2 separate regions of the Homo sapiens genome follow, and region 1 is linked to region 2. The links come from fine-mapping of genetic effects on gene expression. A gene starts in region 2. The other region holds a variant in brackets. All regions are shown on one strand. Distances are from middle to middle. Region 1 has its middle 7.9 kb from the start of DIPK1B. Region 2 holds the start of EGFL7 (EGF like domain multiple 7).

Region 1 (11,949 bases), 43 kb before region 2:
ATGACCCAATTCCAGTTAACTTTTGTGTATTGTGCAGGGTGTGGATCAGAGGGTTTTCAGTTTGGGGCTTGGGGGTTTTGTTAGCATTTTTTGCACATGGACATCCAATCCTTCTGGCATCATCTGTTGAAAGGATGAGCCCCTCCCCACAGAATTGCATGGCAGGGAGTTAAACAGAGAGGGACAAGGCCAGGGGGCAATGGGGTCAGGGTTCTATGCCAGGTATAGAAAGGAGGGGTGGGCCTGGGGGTGTGGCAGTGGCCTAGGCCAGCGACCTGGATGGACAGGGCTGGAGGCAACGTGAGGAAGGGGAGAGGGGCCAGTGGGAGAAAGTAGCAGGCAGACCCTCCCAGTCTCAGTGACCCCCAAGGTAGCCGTAGCCCAGGCTGGGAAGAGGGACTGCCATGTCCCCAAGTGACCTTTCCTCTCTCCCTCGATCCAAGCACTGTCTCTCTGCCAGCGAGGGTCCCGGAGCCCAAGAAAGGGAAGAGCAGTACGAGAGGGTGGGACACAGAGCACAAGCACCAAGAGGCCAACACGTAGGCTTCTCCCGGCCTGGAGGGAGGCCTTGCCATGTTTACAGCTGGGAGAGCATGTGCTTCCCTGCATGGCCTGTCCTCCTCCTGCAGGAGGGCTGTCCCAGGGCCAGGGGGAGTGGGTGCAGGGCAGTGGTGGTCGGTCCGGCCTGCAGGGAGCTCAGCTGGAGGGTGCAGGAGCCCACACCTTCCGTCAATGTGAGCCAGGCCAAGACCGCGGCCAAGAAAGTTCTGGAGGGTCTCCCGAGGAGGGCTTCCTGGGGGAGGGGCGCAGGAGAGCGTGATCCGTGGGTCAGGATCTGGGGAAGGTGTGGGCCATGAGAAGGATGAGCGCAGCCTCAGTGCCACTCCCAGGCTGCCAGGAGGGAGATGGCCCGCCCTGGGAGGAGTGCCTGGTGAGCGCATAGCCGGCCCTGGGTGACCCTGTCCCCGAGATCTTCCAAAAAGGCATTTCCCAGCAGGGCCCGCGGGACGCGGTGCTCCCTCCAGGCAGGGACCAGTGACCACGTTCTCCTTTGCATCTGCAGGCCTGGCCCAGAACCTGCACACTGTCCGTGGCCACTAGCCCATCAAGTGTTCATGGAATGGGCACTGGCCGGGTTCCAGTTCAGTTTGAATGGGTCTAGTTCTCGTTTTGGGGCCCTTGTTTCTACGCCACCAATGGGTGACATCCACCTGCCTGGAACATGAATGGGGCAGAGGACCCGGGAGGTGCTGACTGGTATCTCAGGTGTGGGGGCGGGAACTGGGCCGTGCCTTGCTGTTTCTAGGGCCTTTCGTGGCCTGAGGCCCTGAGCTCAAACCCTGGCCAGGGCAAACGACAGGTAAACGAAAGGTCCACTGCACAGACACAGACGCAGAGACACAGGATCACACACACCTTCGGGGCAGGCTCCGGGGACAATTCTGAAAGTGGAGGACCTTCCTGCCCTGTCTTTCCTTCCCATTCGTCCTGAGGCCTGGGAGTTTCCTCCCCAAGCAGGGGGCCCATTGCTCTCCCTGCCCTGCTGCAAAACTGGCATGTCCCATTCCAACTGCTATAACTGCGTCTCTTCCCCAGGCATCCCCTACTCACACCCAGACCTTTTTTTTGAGATAGAGTCTCGCTCCGTTGCCCAGGTTGGAGTGCAGTGGGGCAATCTCAGCTCACTGCAAGCTCCGCCTCCTGGGTTCACGCCTTTCTCCTGCCTCAGCCTCCCGAGTAGCTGGGACTACAGGCGCCTGCCACGGCGCCCAGCTAATTTTTTGTATTTTTAGTAGAGACGGAGTTTCACTGTGTTAGCCAGGATGGTCTCGATCTCCTGACCTCGTGATCCGCCCGCTTCGGCCTCCCAAAGTGCTGGGATTACAGGCGTGAGCCACCACGCCTGGCCTTTTTTTGTATTTTTAGTAGAGACGTGCTGAGACCAGCTCAGTCAGGGAGACCCTATCCGAGCGGCGTTAGAGGAATTAAAGACACACACAGAGAAATATAGAGGTGTGAAATAGGAAATCGGGTCTCACAGCCTTCAGAGCTGAGAGCCTCGAACAGAGATTTACCCACGTATTTATTGACAGCAAGCCGGTGAGCACACCAGGTGAGCAGCCGTTTAGGGGGCCCTGGTGGATCGAGGGCCCTGGAGAGCCACGAGCTTTCCCTCAGACGGTGGAGTGCGGCGCGTCAAGTTTCCCCCAAAGGGAGAGCTGCCACTTCCGATGAGAAGCTGACATATCACCGGGGACCCGCCCGCTGCTGTTGAATACAGAGTCTTCTGTTTGCAAAGAGAAGCTCTAGGGCCCTCCTTCCTTGTGGTGGTTGTGTCTGAGTTGAAAACCCTCCGAATGGGACTGTCAGGCTCCAGTCACAAGGCCTCCGTGGTCAGGTGGTTCACTGGGACAAGAGCTCGTTGTAAGCTAATTTTGCTTTTTGAAAACAAGGGGTGAACCTAGTAGTCGTGTCAGAGAGTCAGTGAATCCACCACCCCAAGGGGCACATCTGGGCAGAGGCTGTTTTCTTTCTCTGGAGTTTCCAGATAACGGGATCGTCAGCCACAGGGACTTGTCGTTCAAAGGGATCACAGGGCTGTGAGGCCCCAGCGGGAGAGAGAGTGGCCTGTGGCTCACGGGGCGGCAGCTGGAATAGCCTGTTGGTTCAGGCCCTGACGTAAGCAGGCTGATTTGTGGGTTCACTAATTTATTTTATTTATATTATTATTTTTTTGATACCAAGTCTTACTCTGTTGCCCAGGCTGGAATGTAGTGGTGTGATCTCGGCTCACTGCAACCTCCACCTCCCAGGTGCAAGCGATTCTCCTGCCTCGGCCTCCCGAGTAGCTGGGATTACGGGCACACACCACCACGTCTGGCTAATTTTTATATTTTTAGTAGAGACAGGGTTTTGCTATGTTGGCCAGGCTGGTCTCAAATTCCTGACCTCAGGTGGTCCACCCCCCTCGGCCTCCCAAAGTTCTGGGATTACCGGCGTGAGCCACCTCGCCCGACCTGGATTCACTAATTTAAGAAGCCAAGTCGAATGCCCAAATGAAGCACATCCTGTCTCCAACACCCACACAGTCCAATCAAGTGCTGGGTTGTCCTTTTGGGTGAGATGAGGGAGCAAAGAGACAACAGGTTTTCCTTGACTGGCTGAGGCAGTGAGTGCTGTGGACCCACCTCCACCTACCTCATCCCAAGAAACTCCACCTGGTGAGGCAGCCACTGGACGCTGTTGATGTTTTGCCTGCCTCTGTGGACAGGGAGGTATGAGAGTACCCCCGTCTAGTTGTCTAGTTCTAGAGACCCAAGGCTTCTGAGCTGCCAACCTGCAGGACATCATCTGTATCATGGCACCTGTGGACATCAGAAGTCCTAACCTGCCCACAGGTGGCCAGTGGCGGGGCGTGTACGGGGAACACACCTAAGTGTATTGGAGACCTGGCCATGTGAATGCAAGCTGGTCTTGCTCCTCCCCTGCCAGTGGTGTGGCAAAAAGGCATTGGCAGGATCCAAGACAGTGTACCAAGTACCCGGAGCCCACGTGATGGGCTCGGTATGGTCACAGTGTGTAGGACAGCTAGGGCTCTGGGAGCAATGGCTGACTTCTGTTGGTGGTAATCCACTGTCAGCCACCAGCAGCTCTTACCTGCTCCACTGGCCACTCAGGGATGTTGTGTTGCCATATTTCATCTCTTTTTTTTTTTTTTGACACGGAGTGTCACCCAGTGATTGTCACCCAGGCTGGAGTGCAGTGGCGTGATCTCGGCTCACTGCAGCCTCTGCCTCCTGGGTTCACATGATTCTCCTGCCTCAGCCTCGCGAGTAGCTGGAACTATAGGGGCCCGCCACTATGCCCAGCTAATTTTTGTAGTTTTAGTAGAGACTGGGTTTCTCCATGTTGGCCAGGCTGGTCTTGAACTCCTGACCTCAGATGATTCACCCGCCTCGGCTTCCCAAAGTGCTGGGATTAGAAGCTTGAGCCACCACGACCAGCCTTTATTTTTTTGAGGCAGACTCTCACCCTGTTGTCCAGGCTGGAGTGCAGTGGCACGATCTCGGCTCACTGCAACCTCCACCTCCCGGGTTCAAGTGATGGGTTCAAGGGATTCTTATGCCTCAGCCTCCCGAATAGCTGGGACTATAGGTGCCCGCCACCACACCTGGCTAATTTTTTTGTATTTTTAGTAGAGACGGGGTTTCACCATGTTGACCAGGCTGGTCTCTAACTCCTGGTGTCAAGTGATCTACCGGCCTCAGTCTCTCAAAGTGCTGGGATTACAGGCGTGAGCCACCACGCCCAGCCCCATATTTCATCTCTTAGTCCCCCTACTGCCCTTAATCCCTCAATCAAACCTCTGATGCGCCTTTTTCCCTCTGGGATTCTGTACCGCTTCTGGGATTCTGTACCCGCCCTGAAAGCGGGTTGCAGAGAGATTCACACATCCCACTGGCCCTTCTCTGCATTCAGTGCTTGCCAATAGGGAGAGTCCCCTCTGGCACGTACAGGATGGAAGTATGGGGATGAAACACAGCTCCTACGCGGCAACACACACATAGAAGCATCAAAAACAGGGCATCGAATTGGCCCAAAATGCCACACCCACAAGATCACATCAGCCTTCACTCCCCATTTCAAACCGTGCACAAATCCGGTGAGCGGAATCCAGAGAACTTTTCCTTCCACTGGTCCAAACAGGAGAGTGATGTGGGCTACTCATATCCGACAGAGCCATAAAGTTTGAGTTCTTCTTCTCCTCCAAGTTCTCCAGCACACTTGGATGGTGCCCACGGCCTGGGAACCTCTAATCATCTTTCTTCCTAACGTAAGTGGAGGGGGGTGAGAGGTGGAAGGAGGAAGTCCATGAACAAGGTTCTGCGTTTATTTTCAGGCAGCGTGGCAACGGCTCATGACTCAGCCAGGGACTGTTCCATGATTTTCAATCCATCCAATGCTCCGTACCAGGCAGTGAGCTTCTCACAGCTGACCCATCTACTTCAGTTTTGGGAGCCCCATGGCTTAGTAGCCATTGCCATGTTGTTTTCAGCTGGATCTGTGGAGTTTGCACCATTTGGCCAACTCGAGCTTGGTGTCCCAGTGGCAATCTTATTTGAGGATTCTTCCTACTTTAGACAAAATAGATGTAACAGAGTTGATTTGAGCATTAAAGGAGGCATGAATCAGGCAGCACTCAAAGGTGGAAGAGGCTCTGGGAGCTCTGTCTTAGCAGTGTGAGCAGCAGGCTTTTACAGGCTGAATGTGGAAGTGAAGTACGGAAATAACTCAAGGCCAGGCTAGGCACCGTGGCTCACACCTGTAATCCCAGCAGTTTGGGAGGCCGAGGCAGGCAGATCACATGAGGTCAGGAGTTCAAGACCAGCCTGGCCAACATGGTGAAACCCCGTCTTTACTAAAAATACAAAAATTAGCTGGGCATGGTGGTGTGCACCTGTAATCCCAGCTAATCGGGAGGCTGAGGCAGGAGAATCGCTTGAACCCAGGAGGCGGAGGTTGCAGTGAGCCGAGATCACACCACTGCACTCCAGCCTGAGCAACAGAGCATGACTCTGTCTCAAAAAAAAAAAAAAAAAAGAAAAAGAAAAAAAAAAGAAAAGAAATAACTCAAGACCTTTGCCTTATTTGGGTGTGGTCTGATTGGTTGGCTGCCCGTGATTGATTGGTTGAAACCTGGCTATCTGTTAACAAACTACTGAATAAAGTTGTTGTTGGTTAGTGGGAACTCCCAGTACAGAGACGGCCTCAGGCAATGACTGCTCCTTATTTTGCTTTAAACAACTTTAATCTAGCCGGGCAGGGCATGGTGGCTCACGCCTGTAATCCCAGCCTTTTGGGAGGCCGAGGCGGGCAGATCACCTGAGGTCAGGAGTTCCAGACCAGCCTGGCCACCATGGTGAAAGTCCTTCTCTACCAAAAATACAGAAATTAGCCACGCATGGTGGCAGGTGCATGTAGTCCCAGCTACTCGGGAGGCTGAGGCAGAAGAATCGCTTGAACCTGGGAAGCAGGGGTTGCAGTGAGTCAAGATCGTGTCACTGCACTCCAGCCTGGGTGACAAGAGCAAAACTCATCTCAAAATAAATAAATAGATAAATATAAATAAATAAAATTCAGTGGTGCCTCTTCCTCCTGCTCCAGCCACGTAGGACACACCTGTGTCCCCTTCACCTTCTGCCACGATGATGTTTCCTGAGGCCTCCCCAAAAGCAGAAGCCGCTATGCTTTCTGTACAGTCTGAGGAACTGTGGGCCAATTCAACCTCTTTTCTTTCTAAATTACCCAGTCTCAGGTATTTCTTTGTACCCATGTGAGAATGGACTAATATAGATGGTTTTGGGAGGTGGTGCCTTTGGGAGGTGACAAGGTCATAAGGGTGGAGTTCTCATGAATGAGATCAGGGCCTTTATAAAGGAGACCCCTGGCCGGGCACGGGGCCTCAAGCCTGTAATCCCAGCACTTTGGGAGGCCGAGGCAGGTGAATCACCTGAGGTCAGGAGTTCGAGATCGGCCTGGCCAACATGGTGAAACCCCGTCTCTACTAAAAATACAAAAATCAGCCTGGGGTGGTGGCGGGCACCTGTAATCCCAGCTACTCGGGAGGCTGGGGCAGGAGAGTCACTTGAACCCGGGAGGCGGAGGTTGCAGTGAGCCAAGATTGCGCCATTACACTCCAACCTGGGCAACAAGAGCGAAACTCCATCTCAAAAAAAAAAAAGAAGAGACCCCCACCCCGGCTGCCAGGAGACCCCTGACTGCATTCACCACGTGACGTCTATCAGGAGGCGGGCGCTCACCAGACACGGAATCTGCCTGCACCTCGATATTGGACTTTCTGGCCTCCATCACTGTGAGAAATGCATTTCCATTGTTTGTAAGCCACCTGGCTTGTGGTGTTTTGTCAAAGCTGACTAGGACAGTCACTTTCCCTTCACCAGGACTGCAAACCCCGTGTCTCAACTGTGGCTTCCTGTGAGTTTGTCTGTCAGCAAAACCTCCTGAAATGGGCCAGAGCCCCCCTTAGAGCAGCAGGACATGCCACAGACTTCAGAGACCTTTCACTGTGCCCCCAGGACAGATCTAGAGTTGGCTGGAAAGGTGCAGGAGCAGCTGGGCCATGCCTCCTTAATAACACTGGGGGCTCCACCCCCATCTGTCAAGGGAACCAAAGCTCCAAGGACTTCCTAGTTTCTGCCCTCGGTGGGAGTGCAGCTGCGGTCAGGAGACCTACACATCTGTGACTGTCAGAGCGGCAAGACCTTCTGCTCGCAGAGACACATCTTTTCTTTCTCTCTTTCTTTCTTTTGAGACAGAGTCTCGCTCTTGTCGCCCAGATTGGAGTGCTGTGGTGTGATCTCGGCTCACCGCAACCTCCGCCTCCCTGGTTCAAGCAATTCTCCTGCCTCAGCCTCCCGAGTAGCTGGGATTACAGGCATCTGCCACCAGGCCCAGCTAATTTTTTGTAGTTTTAGTAGAGATGGGATTTCACCTTGTTGGCCAGGCTGGTCTCGAACTCCTGACCTCAGGTGATCCACCCGCCTTGGCCTCCCAGAGTGCTGGGGTTACAGGCGTGAGCCACCGCGCCCGGCCCTCTAAATCATTTTTAAGCACACAGTCAGTGACATTAGGTATGTTCACATTGTTGTACAGCCCTCACTGCCATCTGGCTCCAGAACTTTTCCATCTTGTAAAACTATCTTGAACTATACAGGTGCAGTGGCTCACACCTGTAATCCCAGCACTTTGGGAGGCCGAGGCGGGCAGATCACCTGAGGTCAAGAGTTTGAGACCAGCCTGGCCAACATGGTGAAAACCCATCTCTACTAAAAATACAAATATTAGCTGGGTGTGGTGGTGGGCGCCTATAATCCCAGCTACTCGGGAGGCCGAGGCAGGAGAATCGCGGGAACCGGGGAGACGGAGGTTGCAGAGAGCCGAGATCGCGCCATTTTACTCCAGCCTGGGTGACAGAGTGAGACTCCATCTCAAAAAAAAAAAAAAAAAAAAAAAGGCAAAATTGATCTCACTCGAGGTCTTTAACCTAATTACAGCTGTAAAGACCCCATTTCCACAGAAAGTTACATTTACACATTCCAGGGGGACTTATCTTTTGGGGGGCACCATTTAACCCACTGCAGTATCAAAATCAAGGTGCAGGGCAGCACGTGCAGTGTGGTACCATTTTCATTTTTGTCATTTAGCTCTGTGTGTGTGTGTGCACATGGGTGTGTGCCCGCGTGCGTGTGTGTGTGTGTGTGTCAATCTCCCTGTGTTCCTTCCATGTATAGGTGATTGAACCTCTCTTGCTATTTTTTTTTTTTTTATCCGAGACAGAGTTTCACTTTTGTCACCCAGGCTGGAGTGCAGTGGCACGATCTCGGCTCACTGCAACCTCCACCTCCCAGGTTCAAGCAATTCTCCTGCCTCAGCCTCCTGAGTAGCTGGGA[C/T]TACAGGCGCGCACCACCATGCCCGGCTAATTTTTTGTATTTTTAGTAGAGATGGAGTTTCACCATGTTGGCCAGGCTGGTCTCGAACCCCTGACCTCAGGTGGTCCACCCGCCTTGGCCTCCGAAAGTGCTGGGATTACAGACGTGAGCCACCATATCCAGCCCTCTCTTGCTATTTGCAAAGGTGTAAGTGGGGGGACTGAATCGTGTCCCCACTAAATTCCTTCCTGGAAGCCCTAACCTGCAAGGAGAGGGTATTGACGATGTAGCCTATGGGAGGTGCCTGGGGGTGGATGAGGTCATGAGGGTGGGCCTTAGTAGAAAGGGCACAGGTGCCCTCCCCTTATTCCTTATCCCACCCTCGCGTCAGGACGCAGCAAGAAGGCACTAGAGAAGGGAGGCAGGGCTGAGAACGGGGAAAAGGGCTGGATCCTTAGAGAGGCCAGGGCTGGGAACCTCAGGCGGGTTCCCAGGATCTGCCAGGAAGAGGACCCTCACCAGAGCCGGACCACGGGGCGCCCCCACCCCCAGCCTCCAGACCCGTGGGGAGGAAACGTCTGCTTTGTGAGGATGTCCTGGCCGGCGGAGACAAACCTGAATCCTGCGGGCGCTGGGGCCCCCGGATCCTCCACAGCTGCTCAAAATGAGGGTGACGCAGAGAGACACCACAATAAACTCGAAAGTAGCAGACGGTGAAACCGTCTCCATGCTGTCAACGTGTGAGCAACGTTCAGCGTCCGAGTCACAGGGAACACAGGAGGCCATCCCACCGAGCGGGGCTGTGACTCGTGTTCATAACTGTCATCACCCTAGTACCTGCCGCTCCTCCTGGAGAAAATTCGGATGTCCCAGGTGGGCTGAAGCACACAGGAAGGTGGGGGTGGAGAGACAAGGGAGGCAGGGCTGAGCACAGAGCTGCGTCCTTCGAGAGGCTGGGGCCGGGAACCTCAGGCGGGTTCCTCTAAAACAGCCCTTGTCGCTGTTGTTCATGTCCTTATCACCGACGTCTTGAACGTTCATTGTAAAATATGCAGGTTCATCTGAGGCAGGACAGGCGGTCGAGGAAGTGACCGTGTCCTCGGAACGTGGCAACCGCGGTGACCCCACAGTCAACACAATAAGCCCTAGCGTTGGCACTGTAGTCCCACTCACTCAAGCGCAGCTGTCTCCAGTAGGGGCTTTCCCTGTAGACAGCATGAGCTTTTTTTTTTTTTTTTTGAGGTGGAGTCTCGCTCTGTCTCCCAGGATGGAGTGCAGTGGGGCAACCTTGGCCCAGTGCAACCTCCACCTCCCAGGTTCAAGCGATTCTCGTGCCTCAGCCTCCCGAGTAGCTGGGATTACAGGCACCTGCCAGCACACCTGGCTGATTTTTTTTTTTTTTTTGGAGACACAGTCTTGCTGTATCCTCCAGGCTGCAGTGCAGTGGTGCGATCTCGGCTCACTGCAACCTCCATCTCCCGGGTTCAAGCAATTCTCGTGCCACAGCCTCCCGAGTAGCTGGGATTACAGGCATGTACCACCACGCCCAGCTAACGTTTTATTTTTAGTAGAGATGGGATCTCACTATGCTGTCCAGGCTGGTCTCAAACTCCTGGCCTCAAGTGATCCTCCCCCATCTCGCCTCCCAAAGTGCCGGGATTCCAGGCGTGAGGCCCTGTGCCCGGCCAGAGGAATGAAGTTCTGGCCCAGGCTATGTGGGTGAGTCGTGAAGCTGTCATGCTGAGTGAAAGAATCCAGGCACAAAGGTCCACATGGTCCTGATTCCGCTTCTATGAAATTTCCAGAACGGGCAAATCCACAGACACACGAAGATGAGTGGTTGCCATGGGCTGGGGGAGGGAGCAGTGGGGAGCGAGTGCCTATGGGGAAGGCGTTTCCCTTTGGGGGGATGAAAATGTTCTGGAGGTGATGGTTGCAAAACATTGGAGGCGTTGCAAAAAACTGAAAGTGCTAAATTATACACTTTTTTTTTTTTTTGAGATGGAGTCTCACTCTGTTGCCCAGGCTGGAGTGCAATGGTACCATCTTGGCTCACTGCAACTTCCGCCTCCTGGGTTCACGTGATTCTCCCGCCTCGGCCTCCCAGGTAGCTGGGATTACAGGCATGCGCCACCACACCCAGCTAATTTTTGTATTTTTAGTAGAGACAGTGTTTTACCATGTTGGCCAGGCTGGTCTCGAACTCCTGATCTCAGGTGATCTGCCCACCTCAGCCTCTCAAGGTGTCAGGATTACAGGCATGAGCCACTGTGCCCGGCCAAATTGTACACTTTAGAATAATTTTATGTTACATGAATTTCACTTCAATAAAAAAATATAGGTAAGGGCTGGGTGCGGTGGCTCACGCCTGTAATCACAGCACTTTGGGAGGCTGAAGCGGGCGGATCACTTGAGGTCAGGAGTTCGCGAATAGCCTGGCAAACATGGTGAAACCCCGTCTCTACTAAAAATACAAAAATTAGCTGGGCATGGTGATGGGCATCTGTAATTCCAGCTACTCGGGAAGCTGAGGCAGGAGAATCGCTTGAACCCAGAGGCGGAGGCTGCAGTGAGCCGAGATCACACCATTGCACTCCAGCCTGGGCAACACAGGGAGACTCCATCTCAAAAAAAAAAATACAGGTAAGCAAAAATAAGTAAAGTCAGCTGTGACCTGGCCATCCGACAGATGGAATCACTGTGGAACCCAAATGTGTATCCTTCCAGATTGAGACCTTTTTTTTTTGAGACGGAGTTTCGCTCTTGTTTCCCAGGCTGGAGTGGAGTGCAGTGGCACCATCTCGGCTCACTGCAACTTCTGCCTTCCGGGTACAAGCGATTCTCCTGCCTCCGCCTCCTGAGTAGCTGGGATTACAGGCGCCTGCCACCACGCACAGCTAATTTTTTGTATTTTTAGTAGAGATGGGGTTTCTCCATGTTAGTCAGGCTGGTCTGGAACTCCCAACCTCAGGTGATCTGTTGGCCTCGGCCTCCCAAAGAGCTGGGATTACAGGCATGACAGATTGGGAACTTTTGACTATATGTACACACACACAGTCACACAGCCGTAAAAACATACACAGGCACAGACATATGCATTTGGCATAAAGGGGCTACTTTACCTTGTTGCTTTTTTCAAAAGAACTGAGGGTCTCAGCCATATTATTGGGAATCACATGTTCTTTTTTTTTTTTTTTTTTTTATTGATCATTCTTGGGTGTTTCTCGCAGAGGGGGATTTGGCAGGGTCATAGGACAATAGTGGAGGGAAGGTCAGCAGATAAACAAGTGAACAAAGGTCTCTGGTTTTCCTAGGCAGAGGACCCTGCGGCCTTCCGCACGCAGCGTTTGGGGAATCACATGTTCTAAGCAAAGTTTTAAACATGATGTTTTCCTGCTGATGATATGTAAAAGAAATTGTGTAACCACTAACATAAAAGCAAAGCTTCCCTTGGGCATCAAAAAGACTGTTTTTTCCCCAACATCGTGGACTTCGTGAG
Region 2 (16,568 bases):
GGTCACTGCACAGCCGTTTCCCTGCCTGGGCCTTCCGGTGCTGGCCGGGACTCAAGCCACAGCAGGAAGGCCCAGCCACACTCCGCATGGAGCAGAGGCAGTGGCCAGGCCTGTGTGTGCCCCCACCTATCTGGTCTCCTACTGTGGGGGCATCCAGGCCCAGAGGAGAGGGTGTGCCCGGCCTACGGCGAGTCACGGCAGAGTGTGGGCCCTGGGCATCGGAGCCCTTCTTAAACCTCCAGAAGTCTGAATTCCCAGGCCCCTCCCCCAGCAGGGGGTGGAGCTCCCACACCCAGGAAGGAGGACTCTGAGACTTAGGGGTGTGTGCCCCTTGTGTGGGCATACAGGACATTTCAGGGTCTCATCTGTGCCCACTGGGGGCCGTCATGTGGAGGGGGGTGCCCAGTGGAGTGGGACCAGGGGAGTCAGGCACCATTCTGTGTATATGGGAACTTGCAGCCAGGGATGCCAGGGTAGGGAGGGGTTAGTCCCCCGGAAGTGGAGGGGTGCAGACAGGATGGGTGACCCCTCTAAACATGGGGATGCTCTTAGAGGTGCGGTCCTTTGAGACGTGTCGGGGCAAGAGCAAGGATTAGGACACTGGAGGTGATCGTGGAACCCCTTGGCTCCGGCCGCCCTGGGTCGCCCATCTCAGGCAGCCCTCTCATGGCTCTGGCCTCAGTTTCCCATCTTGGGTCCCAGGATTCACCCCCGCCTCGCCCCTGACATGCTGATGTGTGGCCGACTTGGGAGGCTGGGGCTGGGTGAGCTCGGTGTGGTGGGGCACTCACCGGTAGGTGCTGCAGGCCCGGTGCCCGTCGCAGGTGGTGAGGAAGGGCTGGTACACACGCTGCACGAACGACTCGGAGACAGGGTCCCCGTGAGCCCGGACAGCACACACCCTACGGCTGCGGGGGTGGAGAGGGGGTCAGCCCAGGAGTCCCAGAGCAGGACCCAAGAATGATGGGAACATGTGGCCGGGGCAGGACCCTCAGCAGGAGCCCCCAGGGAGTCCCCGACAGGTGCTGAGGGCCGCCTCTAGGAGGTGCTGAGGGCTCCCGGTCCCCCCACCCCAGCACTCCCAGGCTAGGGCTTGGCTCACCCGGGCCGGTAGGCGTGCTCTGTGCCGCCCACTGCCAACACCAGAAGCCACATCAGCAGCACCTCCTGAGAGCCCCTCATGGCCTGTGCCTCCAGGCGGGGTGGCCTTCTCCTCTGGGTGGCCTGGGGCACAAAGCATGACCCCTAAGTCTCCCCGCAGATGCCCCCAGGACGCGGGTGCAGTTTGCACTTGCTCCGCGAGGCCTGCCCAGCTCATCTCCGCTGGAGCCTCCACCGGTGGGACAGCCCCACGGTGGCGCCCACTCTCTCCTCCGCTGGCCCCCTCTTCCAGCTAGCCAGACCCTCGCCAGGCACAAACAGCTGGGGCCACAGCCTGGGGGCACAGGGGGGGTGACGCTGTCCAGAGCTCTTGGTGCAGGAATCGAGTGGATCCTGCTGGGCATCTGCCCGAGGCTCCGGGAAGGATGGCTCCAGCTACGGGTGGCCGTTTCTCCTGTCCTGCCTGGTTCCAGGGCCCTCCTCACAGCAGGGCAGGGGTGAGTTTGCACCCCAGTCTATGCAAACGGGGTGTTCGTGGGCAGAGCTGGGATCCAGCCCCACCAGGGACCTGCCGGCCTCAGCCCTTCTGGAATTTGATTTCTCATCTGAGTGTGGAACCGGCCCCAGCAGGTGGGCCAGCAGCTGCAAGCCAGCAGGAACCGTGCGGAGGGTGCACACATTCTAAGACCACCAGAGGGGCGGCCTTCATTTTAGAGGGGGTCCTTCCCAGGCTGGGATATGTGTGCAATCAGCCTCCAGGGATCCTGGGACAGTGGCTGTGCCAGGTGCACACCTGGGGGTGAGGAGCAGCCCCCGACAGTGTCACCGGAACCGGAATCCAACCCCCTCCTGGCTGTGCAGCAGGAGCCAGGGGCCCGGGTGAGGCTTCCTGAGAGCATGAGAGCCCAGAATTAATGGTCTGTGGCAATGCCGGGGATGGGGATTCTGTCCTATGCGCAGCCAGGGGTCTGGAGACCTGGCGAGCCCCTGCCATGCTGCAGGGTCCCACCCAGGGCCTCTCACGGGTGCTTCCCAAAGGCTGGGTGGGTTCCTTCCGAGGCACTGCAGGGCCCTCCGCAGGGAAAGGCCAGGCTTCGGGTCGGGGCAGAGGCTGGGGTAAGGCTGTCCCTTCTCTGGGATTCAGTTTCCTCACACACTAGAATAGGGTCTCTGAGGCCCCTCCTCAGCTCTGACAGCCAGTCCTATAAATAGTCACACTGTCCTCAGTCGCTGCTGGCCAGCCCCACTGGGTGTGGAGCACGATCCCACACCTGCTTCCCACGGGCACTGCCAAGGCATCACCCGGTCCCAGCGGGGAGGGTGGCTGGGGGTCCTTCCTGGGCCTCCAGTCCTCTGTGCGCTGGAGAGAGGAGGGCAGGGCAGAGGCTGCCAACTAGGCAGAGGCTGCCCTGGGCAGCTGAGGGGTGGGGACTTAGCTTGGGGGCAGGGGGGGCATCACAGCAGTTTTTGGGCAGGAGTTTGTCGAGGGGGCAGAGCTGGCTGGAGATTAACTCTGGGGATGGGCCCTGGATGAAGGACACTGTTAGGGGCTGGGTCTGGTGCGACCTCAAGGCAAGACTCGAAGTCGGGGGACATTGGGGAGTGGGACCCGGGAAGGAAGAGGTAGGGCAGCGGCCCGGCGGCTTGATGTGGGCAGGGGGATGCCAGGGCGGGCCTGGGGGTAGGCGAATCTCCCAGACCTCATTGCCCCCCACACATATTGGCACAGCTCCCCCCCACAATTCCTGAGAGTCGCCTGGACAGGAAGCGGTGCTAAGTGGAGACTCAATTTTTGAAAGTCATGTTTTCCCGAGGCCAGAGGAAGCCCGTGGTGCTCTCCGAGCCGGTGCTGCAAGCCCCATTTCCCCGGGGGGGGCCACGGCCTCGACCCAGGGGTGCCGGGCGGGGAGGGGGCGGCGGCGCCAGGTGGACCAGCAGTCCGGTCCCCGTGCCCCCAGCGCCCACGGGCTCCCTCCCCACCTGCCCGGCAGCAGCCCCGCAGCCCCCACCCGCGAGAGGCCGGGTCCGCAGAGGGAGGGGCCTGGCTGCGCCGCAGGCACTGGCGGACCCCTCGCGGCGGGAGCAGGGCTGGGGACCGCGGGGCCCACGAGGGAGGGCGCAGAGGCGGAGCGAGACGGACCTGCCCGCCGCCCCCTCCCAGCCGCGCTGCTGGCTCCGGGGTTCGCGGGGGGCGGAGCAGGCGGCACAGGCTGGGCCCCGAGGCGCTGAGTCGCGCCGGGTCGGACGAGGGGCCGCGGCGACCCCGGCCCTCCCCGCCGCGCCGCCCGCCCGCCCGCCGCCGGCAGGGGGAGCCGGTTCCCGGGGCCGCTGGGCCCATTCTCCCGGCCCGGCCCGACCCAGCCGCGGGCGCCCCGGCCCGCTCCGCCCCCGGCCCCAGCGGTCGCGCTGCCTCGTCCCGGAGCCGCCCCCAGCTCCGCGCGCGGCCAGGTTCCCCGCCCCCGGGGGCTCCGCGGGTCCCGCCCTCGACCCAGCCCGGGCGGCGACCGGACCCCGACCCCGGCGCGCCCCGCTCGCTCCGCACTCACCGCCGGATCCGGGGCGCGCACGCGCCGCCGCCACTGCCGCCCGAGCCCGCGCCGTGGGGGCCCCGAGCCCCGCCCCGCCCCGCCCCCGGCCCCGCCCCACCTGGCGGCCCCGCCCCGCCCCCATTGCGCAGACGGGGAAACTGAGGCCCCGCGGCGGACGAGCTGCCCCCGGGCGGGCAGTGACTCTGCTGGAACCCGGGGCTGACGCAAACGCGCCTCTGAGCCGCGGCCCGCCAGCACCCCCTCCGGGAATCCTGGGGCCCGAGTCCCCGCGGCAGGGCGCTCGCTGCGCGGTCGCTGGGGACGCACGACCAAGCCCGGCCGCCAGGAGCCAGGAGAGGCCGCCCAGGGCGCCCACACTGACGGGGCTGCGGGCCCTTTGCTAGCTTTCAAGCCCCCCAGGCTGAAAACCACCCCGGGACGCCCATCTCAGCCGCTGGGGGGCCGCGCGGTAGGCGCCCGGCGCAGGTTAGCACTGAGCTGGGTCCTGCAGCCTCGCAGGCAGTGGGCATCATGACCGTCCCCACCGCAGGCCCAGAGACCCAGATCTCCTCTGAGACCACATGGCAGAGCCCAGGCCTGCCTCCTAGCCTTAGCGTGTTAGGTTGGGGGCCCCTGCGCCGGCCCCCACCTGGCCCTCTCTCAGGCATCAGGCACCCTCACCGGGGTCACTGGGTCACTGCTGAGTTCAGCACAGTCAGGGCCATCGCAGAACACTCCTCCCAGCGAATCCACAGGCCCCCAGAGAGTCTCCTCACACCAGAGGTCCCTGGGCTGGTCACCTCTCTTCTCCAGGCCTCCATTTCCAAATTTATAAGATGGGGCTAAACAGCCCTGGGATCTAGTGACGGTGAGGTCGTGGCCACACAACAATTGTTACAGCTGTTACTGCGGGCGCGGCACGTGGGGCTCGGGCCAGCCCAATTCAGCAGCCCCTCAGACCCCAGCCGGAGCCAGCGCCCTGTGTCATAACCCGCGTGGGCGCCGGTGTGAGAAGTGTTCCCTCGGAGCAAGGGGTTTGCTGGGACTCACCTGGCGGAGGAGAATCAGTCATCCCCCGGACAGGGGCAGGAGCTGCTCCTCCGGGTGGTGGGGGCCACCTGTGCCTCCCCGGTCCTGGGGGCTGCTGGTTGGAGAGGAGTTGTGGGTTAGTGCCTATGCACAGTCCTGGTCACCCTGATGTCTGGGGGCTGGGAAGGGGCCCGGGACCAGCTTTCGGTGCTGCTGTGGGACCTCCGCCTGCACTAGGCCTACAGGCCCCTGTCCTGCACCTACCCCGACCCCATCCTGTCCTGAGCTGATTGTCCTCTCGGATCCGCAGCCCCTGGCCTCAGTAAAATGGGGTTATTGCCTCCAGCCCTGGACTCCCTGGCATGGGGATGGGAGGCTGCTGTGAGTGGAGCTGGAGGTCTCTCCATGTAACCCAGGGTGCTGGGCAAGGGGCCTGCAGATGGGTCCGAGAGGGCCACCAGCTTGGTCCTACCTTGGTGCATGGGAGCTGGAGGAAGGGAGGGGCCCAGGTCCCTGGAGAGGAGTCCCCAAAATGAGGCCGCCCCACCCTGCAATCCAGTGGCCACTGCTCTGGACCAGGGGCCCTGGAAGCCCCTGGCACGTGGTCCAAGGGACGACCAGAGCAGCTGCTGTCAGGGGGCGTTCCTCATCTGACTGGGGAGTCCTAGGCCTCCTGGCGCCCTGAGCCCACGCAGGGCAGCTCTTACCTAGCCCCCAGCAGTGAAGTGTTCAGAGTGGGGCCTAGGGGGCCTCTGGGTGGGAGAGCCACCGCCACCCTCCCTGTCCCCTGCCCCTGGCCTCATCTCTGGATCTGCGGTCACTTAACCCTTTGACCTGCCTCCCCACCTCTCCTGCCTGAGTCTGGAAGAGGCGATGGAGCAGAAAGGGCAGCTCCAGGGCTGCCCCGACTCAGCCCTCGCTGCCCCCATCCTGGCTAGGCACCATTTGGAAAGTGGGGGTTCTCAGACAGGCTTCTTGGTGTGGACGTATGAGACAAAAAGTGGGGCCTTCTAGGACCCACTGTGGTTTTGGGGGCTTTGGGATGGGGCTTCAGCCACTCTGCATGAGGCTGGGGAGAGGGAGAACAAGGGCGTCTCCAGGGTCCAAGGGGGGCCCACAGAGTCACCCATTTGCCCACCGCACCCAGCAAGTCATCCCTAAGCCCGAGCCCCACGTCCCGCACCCTGGATTCACACTGCTCATCCTGGCTACAGATGTGGCTTTGGGGTTCCTCTCCCTCGGGGCCAGTTCCCCTCCCCGGGCCCCCGTTGGGTTGCTCATCCACTGCTAGGGAGAAGATGAGGAGACCTCAGCCCTCGGGACACCGCAGGGCGTAGCGCGAAGCCCCTCACAGCGGGCCCAGCCAAGCTGAACTTTGCTGCCAACCACAGGGGCTGCTCTGCGGAGGGAGAGAAAGGCCAGAGGGTGGGGTTCAGGGGAAGGGCGACTGGGGGTGAAGTGTTGGAGTCAGCAGACTGGATTGGGATCTACGCTGGGCCACCCACTAGCAGGCGTTTGGCCAAGGGGCCTCAGTGGCCTCCTCTGTGCAGAAGGGGAGGAGACTGGGACCCCTCCCCTGTGACCTCGCTGGGGAGCAGATTGCGGAGCAGCCAGCAGGCGCCACGGTCAGCGGGAGTGAGGGGAATGGGGGGCCCGCCCTGTCCGCTCCCTGCCCCTCCGAGGCCACCCCTGCCATACCTGATGCTGCTGGAGCCCAGGCGTGGCCATGGTGGCCGCTGCTGTGTCCTGGGACTGGAGATGGACCCTAGCCCTTGCTGGGGCCTCAGGCCCACTGGCCGCCTGGAGGCACCTCCTGAGGCCCACCTGCCTGGCCTGTCCACAGGAGCCTCCCTTGCAGCCGTGCAGGGCCAGCTTGGTGCAGGGAGGCTCCCCCCGGGCGAGGAAGGGCGGCTTTTTATGCTCCGTCCTGGGTAATCGGGATTGGGATGGGCCCTTCCCAGCCGGACTTCCTGTGTGTGTTCTCCGCTGATAACGGGGACGTGTCGTCGGACAAACAGGAGGCTGAGGGGGGTGGGGGCCACCGTGTGAGGGGGCCTGGACAAACTGCCCAGGGGTGGGGAAGCCGTCCCCTGGGCCATCAGAGTCTAGCCCCAAAACAGCCAGAAACCAGGGCTGGACCCTGCTGGAGACCCTGGGGAGAGTGTGGGGTGGAGGACGCAAGCCCAGGGCCCTCCCAGGACCGTGGGTTCACAGGCCATGCTCACGTGTGGCTGGACAGAAGGGAGCTGCTGCATCTTTGGGCCAAGGATGCTGGGCCCTCCCCCAGGACACCCCCAGATGTGTGTGACACAGCACGGGAGCTTGGAGGGGCCCCAGGCCAAGGCAGGGACCAGCCACACAGGAGCCTTGACCAGTGAGGGATGGCGAGTGGCGAGGCCCGGCAGGAAGGGACTGGGGTGGCAAGACAGGCTGAGCGGTCCGAGAACAGCCTGTTCCGTGGGTCCCTGAGGCCCATGGTGAGGGGGTGACGGGAGGGGACAAGCATGGAGTCCAAGCTCTCTCCCCTAAAAGAGCTGCCAGTGAGGCTGTGAGCCCCTGCCCTGGAGATGGGCAAGCAGGCCCAATGCCCTCAGCCCCACTTCACAGGGGTGCTCTGGGCTGGCAGCAGGCTGCGGCCGGGGGTGTGGGGAGGGATGCGGGACACTGTGGGTGATCACAGGGGGTGCTCTGTCAGATTCCCGGCGTCCCAGCCTCCAGGTCTGACCCTCATCTTCCCTGTTCACACGGCAGTGGGAGCCTCAGGCCGAGCGAGCCACTGTGGCAAAGGTGGGCTGGGTGGGAGGGGACACGGTGCCGAAGGGAGCTGGGTGGCTTTGGAGGGCACGCCTGGAACCCCAGGAGAGCAGGGCCTCTCCCAACCCCGCTGTCCGTGGGGTGTGAGCCCTGCTTTGGGGTCAGCCCCTGTCGGCCTGATGCCTGGGACACCCCCATTTCCCTGGCCCTGGGCGGTCAGTGTGCCCCCACCTCTCCAGCCCCACTCAGCTGGGCAACTTGAGCCAAGGGAGGCTGGGGCAGCTGGGGAAATTCCCCACGGGACTTTGGAGGGCAGGTGGAAACCTCACCCACACGCGATGCGCCTCCCCCTCAAGCAGGAACCAGCTCCCCTCTACCCACGGCCAGGGGAAGGGTCTGCTCTGGGCGCCAGGCTGTGGTCAGGGCTCAGGGCCTCAGCCAGGCAGGACCTCACTCTTCTCCGGGCCTGTTTCTGCACCTGCTTCATGGTCACTGAGCTGGTTTAAGGGGGCGCTCCTGGCACCCAGGCACCGCTGGTCTGAGCGGGAGGGGCCTCTTTCCAGAGGTGGCCCCTGCCCTGAGGTTGGAGCAGATAGGCAGAACCCCATTTCCCCACCTCCTCCACACTAGGCCACCCTGGGATCTGGCCCTTACCCTACTGGCTGCACCCTCAGCCGCCCTGTGCCTCCCTCGGCCCCCTGGCTCTCCCACCCAGGGGCTCATCCTGCCCTGGCCAGCCTGTCCCTCCAGCTGTCAGGAGGGGGTTGCAGTGAAGAACAAGTTGGCAGCAGGCCGGGCCCAGTCCCCCAGGCTGTCACCCAGGAGTCCAGTGCCAGGAGGACAGCCTGGGGAGGACCCAGACTCTGCCCTCGCCCCTGGCTGTAAGCACAGCAGTCAGTTCACCGGGAAGGCCCCCAGCGGGCCAAGCCTTAGCAACTCGTGCACTCGGCTACTTAGCTACTCCACCGTATAGGGGCCCAGTAGGCTTGTGCCCCCATCCCAGGAGGTGCCCTCTTGCCCTCTGCCTGCATCCCTGCGGCCTGCCCCCTCCTCCCCCACCTGCATGCCCCTGGATCTGCCCTGGCCTCCTGGTGGAAGGACCCACAAGCATGGGGTGGGCTAGATCCAGCCCTTTCTGTGTACAGAGGGGGAAACTGAGGCCCAGAGGGAGAAGTGACCGGCCCAGGTGAGCCTGGAGGCCGGACAGGGCTGGGATGCTCGGCACAGGAGGCTGCCTCACCCTTCCTTCCTCTTCTTGGGGAGCCCCATGTCCCCCACCCCAGCTTGTCCTATGTCCCAACCTGGAGCAGCCCCTGTCATCAGACCTATCCGGCCAGGGGACAGCTCGGGGCAGGAATAGCTAAGTAGCCGAGTGCACGAGTTGCTAAGGCTTGGCCCGCTGGGGGCCTTCCCGGTGAACTGACTGCTGTGCTTACAGGCAAGGGGCGAGGGCAGAGTCTGCGTCCTCCCCAGGCTGTCCTCCTGGCACTGGACTCCTGGGTGACAGCCTGGGGGGCTGGGCACCGCCTGCTGCCAACTTGTTCTTCACTGCAACCCCCTCCTGATAAGCTCTGCCCTGCCCCCAGCCCCTCCCCAGGCCAAGACTAGACCCTCCCCAAGGGAAGGAGGCCTGGGCTCAGGCCCAGAGTGCCAGCTTTGCCCTATCCCATAGCCTGGAGCCACCACAGGAGGGGCACTCCACTCTCTTGGGCTCCTGGAGCCTCAGAGGCAGGTACAGGAGGTGGGCTGCGGCCTTGCCCTAATGTCGGGGGCCCAGCGGGGACAGGAGGGGCGGGGGGTTGGCAGGGGACAGACATGGGTTCTTGGACGCCAGAGGGTACTGGGGGTCCAGGGGGTTGGGGCTGCCCCCGGGTTCTGGTATGGGTGGAGCACACTCTGTGCCCAAGGCCCAGGGGCTCAGCAAGGGGCAGGCGGGCCCCTCCCTCACCCTCCGGTCCTTGGAGGTGCCCCCTTCCCTGCCCTGGCCGCTCTGGTGGTGTGTGTTTGGGATCATGGCACAGACCTTCAGCAGGGAATCATTTTGGGAGTCAGCAGTGCCTCCTGCCCAGGCTCCAGCCCCACAGAAGCCAGGCCGGGCCCCACGCCTGGCCTCCTCCCCTCACCTCAGGGGCCCAGCACAGAGGGGGAGACCTGGTGGGAGAGTGTGGCCACCCCAAGGCCTGCGCCTGTCCTCATCTGGGCACTGGAAGGTCTGGAGCCCAGGGCTTCACCCTGCCTGGGGTGGTGTCAGAGGTGGAGGCCCGGCAGGGGCAGGAAGCTGGAGCTCTGGTCCCAGCTTTGTGCCCCACACAGGCCTCAGTTTCCCCATTGTCTCTCTTGTCAGCAGGGCCATGTTGTCCAGTGGCCTTCCAGCCACCTGGGAATGTTCTGAGGTTAGTTATAAGGGGAAGGGCTGCCTTACCTTCCCAGAGCGTGCTGGCTGGGCAGAGAGGCGTGGAGGGGCCTGGCAGAGCCCCCCGGGCCCTCCCGGGCCTCCCGGACCCCTCACCAGGGTGCTTTTGGCCTCTGAAGCCCCAGGAGAGGGCAGACTAAGCCCCTGGCAGAGGCCAGCCTGGGCATCTCAGGTGGCGCGAGACAGAGGGGCACCAGGCGCGGCCGCGGGAGCCGGGCTGCAGGAGGTGCAGGAGGAGGGAGTGAAGCAGAGTGCGGGAGGGATGGGGCTTCCTGTTTACCCCGAGCGCCCCCCGGCCTCGGACGGGCTGGCTCTGTCAGCCACGGATGTGGTGGAACCTTCCCATCAGAGGACGTCCCGGACCCGACGGGGGCTGGAGGGAGCTGCCAGGCAGGGGTGCCTGCGGGCAGAGGAGCCGTCTGCTCCCGAGCGAGGGTTTGGGCAGGGAGAAGTGAGGGTCCCCAGCCTTTCCTCTCACCTCTCCCTGCCTGCTCCGGCCCCTGACCCACGTCCCAGAGCGACACCCTCTGAGTTGAGGGGCTTCCATTTTCAGAGGAGGCAGCTGGCTCACAGGTGGAAGCCGCTTGTTCAAGGGTGGAAAACGGAGGCCCAGGACTGGAGTCCGGGCGCCTGAGCCTCGGGGGTCGCCCGGGGGACCCCTCGCCCTTCCCCTGGCCGCTCCCGTCTCCCTTCCTGGGGCTGCCCACTGCTCCAGCTGATGGCGTGGAGGAGTCCATGGCCTTGTGGGCTGGCTTCTTGGCAGGTCCCCACCGGCTTTGCATCTGAGTGTCCCCTTCTCCTGACATTGCCCCTACCCTGGTCCGGTCCACCCCGCTTCCTGCCTGGATAACAGTCGCCCCTCCTCGGCCTTGCTGGGCGCCGCTGCCCTTCACACCCAGTGCTCAGGGAGTTTCGCGGAGGGACACATCGGGTTGTGTGACCTCCTCCTAAGGCGCCACCACACTCAGCACAAAGTCCAGTCCTGCCGGTGCTCCATGCCCCTGCCCGGGTGCGCGCTCCACAGGGCAGGGACCCGGACCTGGAAGAGGTGACTTGGAGCAGGTGCGCAGAAAGTGCGGAGTCCCCCACTGCGCCGGGCGTGTCACCCGTTGGTGGCCTGGCAAACTTGAACTGCAGCGAGACGTGGGCTTAGAGATGGGAAAGTGAACCTGAGAGGGGCCGGCAGCCCGGGCAGGAGACACAGCCCCTTGGCCACACCCCAGGGGACCGGCATGCCCCACTGCTGGCAGCAGGTGATGGGAGCATCCCTGGGAGAACAGACTCCCCCCAGTTCTGCACACACTGCTGGTGCCTTGGAGCTCTTACCAGCCTGGGGGCTTAGCTTTGAACATCTTCGTGTTATCTTTTGGCAGACGTGAAGATAAATGCAGTTCCCTTAGGCTGTCCCTGGGGGGTCCCCAGTCCCAGGAGGGGCAGGAAGCCAGGGAATGCCCTGCAGTTCTCAGGTCCCCTGCCAGCAGTGCAGGAGCATTTGGCCGCCCCACACCCTTGTCAGCACTTGCTGTTGTCTGTCTTTTTCATTTTAGCCATTCTGATGATTTTGCAGTGGTATTGCTGTATTGTTATTTTTGTTCATGTAGGAAGGTGAAGAAAATCTTATTTTTTAAACGGCAGAATCCGTCCCTAGGGAGAGACTTGCTTCACAGGGGAGACACCTGGCTGGGGTGAGAGCGCAGTGTGGGCTCAGGGGGCTGTGTGCTGCAGGCTCCGTGGATGTCCCCAGCAGCACCCAGGGAGTCTGGAGGGGAGGAGAGAGAAGAGGCCTCCACTGTGGAGTGAGCCTGGGAGAGGGGTCCCCAGATGGACACTGGGTGCTGCCTGGCAGCTCACGAGGTGGGCACTGGTGGTCTGACTTGAGAAAGCCTTGTGGAGCAGCGTGAGCCCCAGATGGAGCCCCTAGTGTGTGGGGCACCCCTCCCCTGGGGATGCCTGTGCTTCTGGGGTCTGTGGGCTTCTGGGAAGGGTGTGGGGGGTCCCTCCCTGGAGGCTTCATCCCTGTCTCTCTTGCGGGGTTGTCATAGAGCTCCAGTAGAGTCAGGGACCATGGGTGCCCTGAAGGCTTCTCTGCCTCAGTTTCCCCTCGTGTCAGACCAGGGCATGGAGGGTCTTCGGAGCCCTGGGGAGGGTCCCGGGGTCTCCAGTTCCCAGTCATGGGGCAGACAGTTTGTGCCTGGGTCCTTCCCAGGAGGGAGGAAGGAGGGGTCCGTAGCTTCCAGCAGATTCTTGAAGGAGGGTCATGTGACCCTCGAGTGAGTTCAGAGTCCCCACCCAATGCAGCTGCCAGGGCCTCGCGTGTCCCTTCGGGGTCCTCAGCGCCACGAACGGGGCTGGTCCCAGTGTCCAGCTTCTGGGATCCCGCTCCTGCAGGCCCTGGAGACTGCTTCCCACCCCTGCTGAGGTTCCCATGGGGCTGAGGAAGGGGGACTTGCCGGCCCCCTGAGGCTGCCCTCACGCCTGGCGCCAGTACATGGCACAGAAGTCCCACTCGGTGGGCTGTGATTTGCCCAGGCCCGACAGATGGGGCAGCCGTTAACGTCAAGAGGAAAAAGCACTTCATCTCCCGCGACGGAAGGAGAAGTTCCCGAGAGCTCAGGGCCTGTGGGGCAGCCAGTTGAGGTGGCGGCAGTTCAGCAGCCCGGCCCCCAGCTGGAGCCGCCCTGTCCTCTCCCCACCTGCCCGCCTGGGGAGATCTGGGGGCCGCCCTGTCCTCTCCCCGCCTGCCCGTGTGGGGAGAGCTGGGGACCAGGCGCTCCAAGCTTTTAGGGGAGAAAATAGCGGGAGAGACGGTGTACGCCTGTGAGCAGGTGCTGCGTTCGGGTGTCTCCTCCTGGGGCCGTTGCCCTGGCCCTGCGAAGTGGAGGCAATGATCTGACCCCATCTACAGATGAGGAAACTGAGGCCCCATGGGAGTGGCTGCTCAAGCTCCCAGGGCCTTCCCCGGCAGGGCTGGACTGGAACCCAGAGCCACAGGGACCCCAGTCTCCGCAAGGCACAGTGGTGGGGGGCCCCTCCCCTGGGGATGCCCGTGTGTCTGGGGTCTGTGGGCTTCTGGGAAGGGTGTGAGGGTCCCTCCCTGGAGGCTTCATCCCTGTCTCTCTTGCGGGGTTGTCATAGAGCTCCGGTAGGGTCAGGGACCATAGGTGCCCTGAAAGCTTGTCTGCCTCAGTTTCCCCACGTGTCAGATCAGGGCGTGGAGGGTCTTGGGAGTCCTGGGGAGGGTGCCGGGGTCTCCCTGTTCCCAGTCACAGTGCACACAGTTTATGCCTGGGCCCTTCCCTGGTGGGGAGGGAGGAGGGGTCCATAGCTTCCAGCAGATTCTCGAAGGAGGGTCAACAGAGCCCCATGCAGGTGGCCCTGGGCTTCCTCCAGTCCCCGAGTCCACACTCCTCAGCACCAAGGCTGCCGTCATATTATCACTATTATTTAATACCCTTAAAAAATGTAAAGAGAGAAAGGGAAAAAAAGGCATCTGCCTGGTCAGGAATCTCTGTTTCCTCTCAGCCAGGAAACAGGAAGTGAGTGTTCGGGGAGATTGGGAACCAGCCCTCGAGAACAATAGAGCCCCCCCAGAGCCCCCCAGAGGGGAAGGGGAACTGCGTCAAGGGGTGGGGGCTGCCGGAAGCCTGACCTCTGCCCCGCCAAGCGCAGAGGGGGCCTGAGGCATAAATTTAGTCTCCTTTTCCTGATGAAAGGCTCAGATGCCCTACTGCTGGGGCTGGGGGGAGGGCAAGGCTGGCCTGGGTCCCTGGGGCCTTAGGGACCATCTAACTGTGCCCTCCTTTCACCTATGGGTAAACTGAGGCCCAAAGAGGGGAAGAGCCCTGTCTGGGGGACTGAGGGTGCCGAGCTCCCGTGGCTGTCTCGTTGGGGCTGCAGGCTTTGCTCGGCTTAACACCTGCTGGACCTGGGCACCCCCTCACGTCCCTGAATAAACATAGCGGGTTCTGGTGGAGGCGGGAGGGCAGTGCGGGCCCCTGCAGCCAGCCCTGGCCATTCCTGCCAGCCGTGTGACCCCAGGCAACGCCTCACCTCTCGAGCCTGGCTTTCCCAAGTCACCCTGGCCCGGAGCAGCCTGAGAGGCAAGGCTGCCACCAGCCCGTGCTCCCTCCAGCCCTGCCAGGTGTGCGTCCCCACCTTAGCACCTTGCAGTCTCCACCCCAGCACCCTGTCCTGCATCTCTCCACACCAGCACCCTGCACCCCTGCATCCTAGCGCCCTGTCCTGCATGTCTCCACACCAGCTCCCTGTCCTGCTCTGGGGGGCGGCTCCTTCACTCCCCACTAGTGCCCTAGGGTGACTGTGTGAAGGTGGTCCGGGCCCTTCCCCAGGCAGGGAGGGGACACGGGGCAGGTCCCTCCCCAGGCCCTGGCCATGACTCTGCATCAGGCAGGACACCCCCATGCCTATATCCTTGCTGCTGCCACTGGCCACCATCCTGGCCCAGGTGACACCAACTGGACTCTCAGCCGGGATGCTGCAAACCCGCCCAGCACCATCAGGCCTCTTGGGGGGGACTGCAGCTTCCTGAGCCACCCCTGCCTGGGCAATGACTGGAAACTCCTCTCTCAGGCTGCCCGGCAGACCCCCACACTGCCGGGATGGGGAGGGCTGCTCTGCCTAAGGGGCCTGCCCATCTGTCTGCCCGTGGACCCTACTCCACGCAGGCCTGGGTGGCCGGAGCGTTCAGGAAGCAGGTCAGGGCAGCAGGCCATGCCAGCCTCGGCCTCCCTCCCAGCCACCAGCAAAGCCTGAGGGTTCAGGGATGGCAGCTGATGATGGTGATGCTGATGATGGTGACAATGATGGCGGCGGCCACAGTGGCACCACAGTCTGCACCCCCAGCCGGCTCCCCCAACCACTCCAGCAGCAGGGATTTTTTTTTTTTTTTTTTTTTTTGTGACGGAGTCTCTCTCTGTCTCCCAGGCTGGAGCGCGGTGGTGCGATCTTGGCTCACTGCAAGCTCCGCCCCCCGGGTTCACGCCATTCTCCTGCCTCAGCCTCCCGAGTAGCTGGGACTACAGGCACCCCCCACCACACCCGGCTAATTTTTTGTATTTTTAGTAGAGACGGGGTTTCACTGTGTTAGCCAGGATGGTCTCGATCTCCTGACCTCGTGATCCGCCCGCCTCGGCCTCCCAAAGTGCTGGGATTCCAGGCGTGAGCCACCACGCCCGGCCAGCGGCAGGGATTTTTAAAGGAACGACATCCAGCAGGAAGGGCGAACCCTCCCCTCCTGGGCCCTTCCCTGGCCCTGGCTTCCCTGGGATGAGGGGTGGCTAGGTGTCCGCCTCGCAGGGCTGCAGGGGCCCAGGACACGGGGGAGGGGGGCTGATTCCAGCCAACCCACAGCAGGCCTCCACCCCAGGAGCCAGAGGGGATGCGCTCTCTAGCCTCTTCCACAGCCCTCCCGGGGGTGGTGGGCTGGGTTTGGCGGAGGGTCTCGGGGCTGTGTGCAGGGCTGTTACCGGCAGGTGCTGGGAGGTGGGGGGTGGCTGGGGCAGGACGGGAAGGTCACTCTAGCCTGAGGATAATTTCTACTTTATTTTACAATTCCAAAATGAAGAGTGATTTTCTTGCTTCTTGTTTGAGCTGGGCTGTGACATGTGCTTCCTCTCGAAGAGCCAGTGGATTTGATGAGAAGCACCGAGAGCACCGCCCGGCTCCCGGCATCTGCGAGGCCTCGCACAGGTCCTGTTCTGACGGCAGCGCTGATCAACGCTCTCCACAAACCCCACGAGGGTCGGAGGCGTCCGCATCACCTGCCCGCATACGGGGAAGGGCTGGGAGGCTGCAGGGCTGAGTCACCGCCGGGCACCCACTCCCTGCCAGCCCCCGGGAAGGACAGGGGCAGACGCGGCTCTTTCGCTTAGCCTCAGGGAGGTGGAATCACACAATTTTAGAGCCTTTATTTTAAGGAAAAGAGAGCTGCGTAAAAATAAATAAAAAAATAAATAAAGAGACTTTATTTTAGGGCAGTTGTAGGCTTACAGCCAAATTGAGAGAAGGTACAGAGGTCCCACGCCACAGCCCCCGCCCCGACGTGCGCAGCTCCCCCTGCACCGGAGCGGTTCGTCTGTGACGTGGGTGAACCTGCACTCACATGTCGCAGTCACCCGGGGCCCACGGTGTAATTGGGGTCACTCCGTGTAGCACATTCAGGGTCTGGGCAAGTGTATGAGGGCACGTGGCTGCCAGGACAGTATCAGGCACGGACGTCTCTGCCCTAAAATCGTCCGAGAGGCACCCTCTTTACGTGGACAGTTTAATGCATTTGGGCAAATGAGCACCCCCGTGTAATCGTCACCGCCAAGGATGGATAGGATGTTTCCCACCCCTCCGAAGCCCCTCACACTCTGCCTGACCCCTGGCAGCCCCGACGTGCTCTCTGCTGCTCCTGGGAGATTTGTGTTGTGGAAGCCAAGTGGCCAGTGCCCTGTGCCCAGCACGATGGCTTTTCTTTTTTTTTTGAGACAGAGTCTTACTCTGTAGCCCAGGCTGGAGTGCAGTGGCACAATCCTAGCTCATTGCAACCTCCGCTTCCCTGGTTCAAGCGATTCTCCTGCCTCAGCCTTCTGAGTAGCTGGGATTACAGGTGTACACCACCATGCCCGGCTAATTTTAGTAGAGATGGGGTTTCACCATGTTGGTCAGGACAGTCTCGATCTCCTGACCTCAGGTGATCCGCTTGCCTTGGCCTCCCAAAGTGCTGGGATTATAGGTGT

Evidence for each region. PIP is the estimated chance that this variant, and not a neighbour inherited with it, causes the effect.
Region 1: its variant is fine-mapped to the expression of EGFL7 in whole blood (TOPMed, PIP above 0.99).

The regions. Positions count from the first base shown.
Region 1 is chr9:136,698,705-136,710,653 of GRCh38, reverse strand. No RefSeq gene overlaps it. Among named protein-coding and RNA genes, the nearest start is that of DIPK1B, 7.9 kb to the left of the region's middle. RefSeq lists enhancers at 9,235-9,284, 9,325-9,484. The variant C/T (reference allele first, on the strand shown) is at 8,472.
Region 2 is chr9:136,652,897-136,669,464 of GRCh38, reverse strand. EGFL7 (EGF like domain multiple 7) reads right to left here and starts at 6,549. Exons shown (of 11, transcript NM_016215.5): 1 at 6,357-6,549; 2 at 5,842-6,057; 3 at 4,680-4,773; 4 at 1,103-1,224; 5 at 792-908. The coding sequence starts at 1,182. It overlaps LNCEGFL7OS (lncRNA EGFL7 opposite strand), which reads left to right and starts at 9,044. Exons shown (of 2, transcript NR_135132.1): 1 at 9,044-9,144. LOC102724193 (a long non-coding RNA gene) reads right to left here. Exons shown (of 4, transcript XR_930443.3): 3 at 15,947-16,069; 4 at 15,369-15,771. RefSeq lists enhancers at 1-32, 13,739-14,363.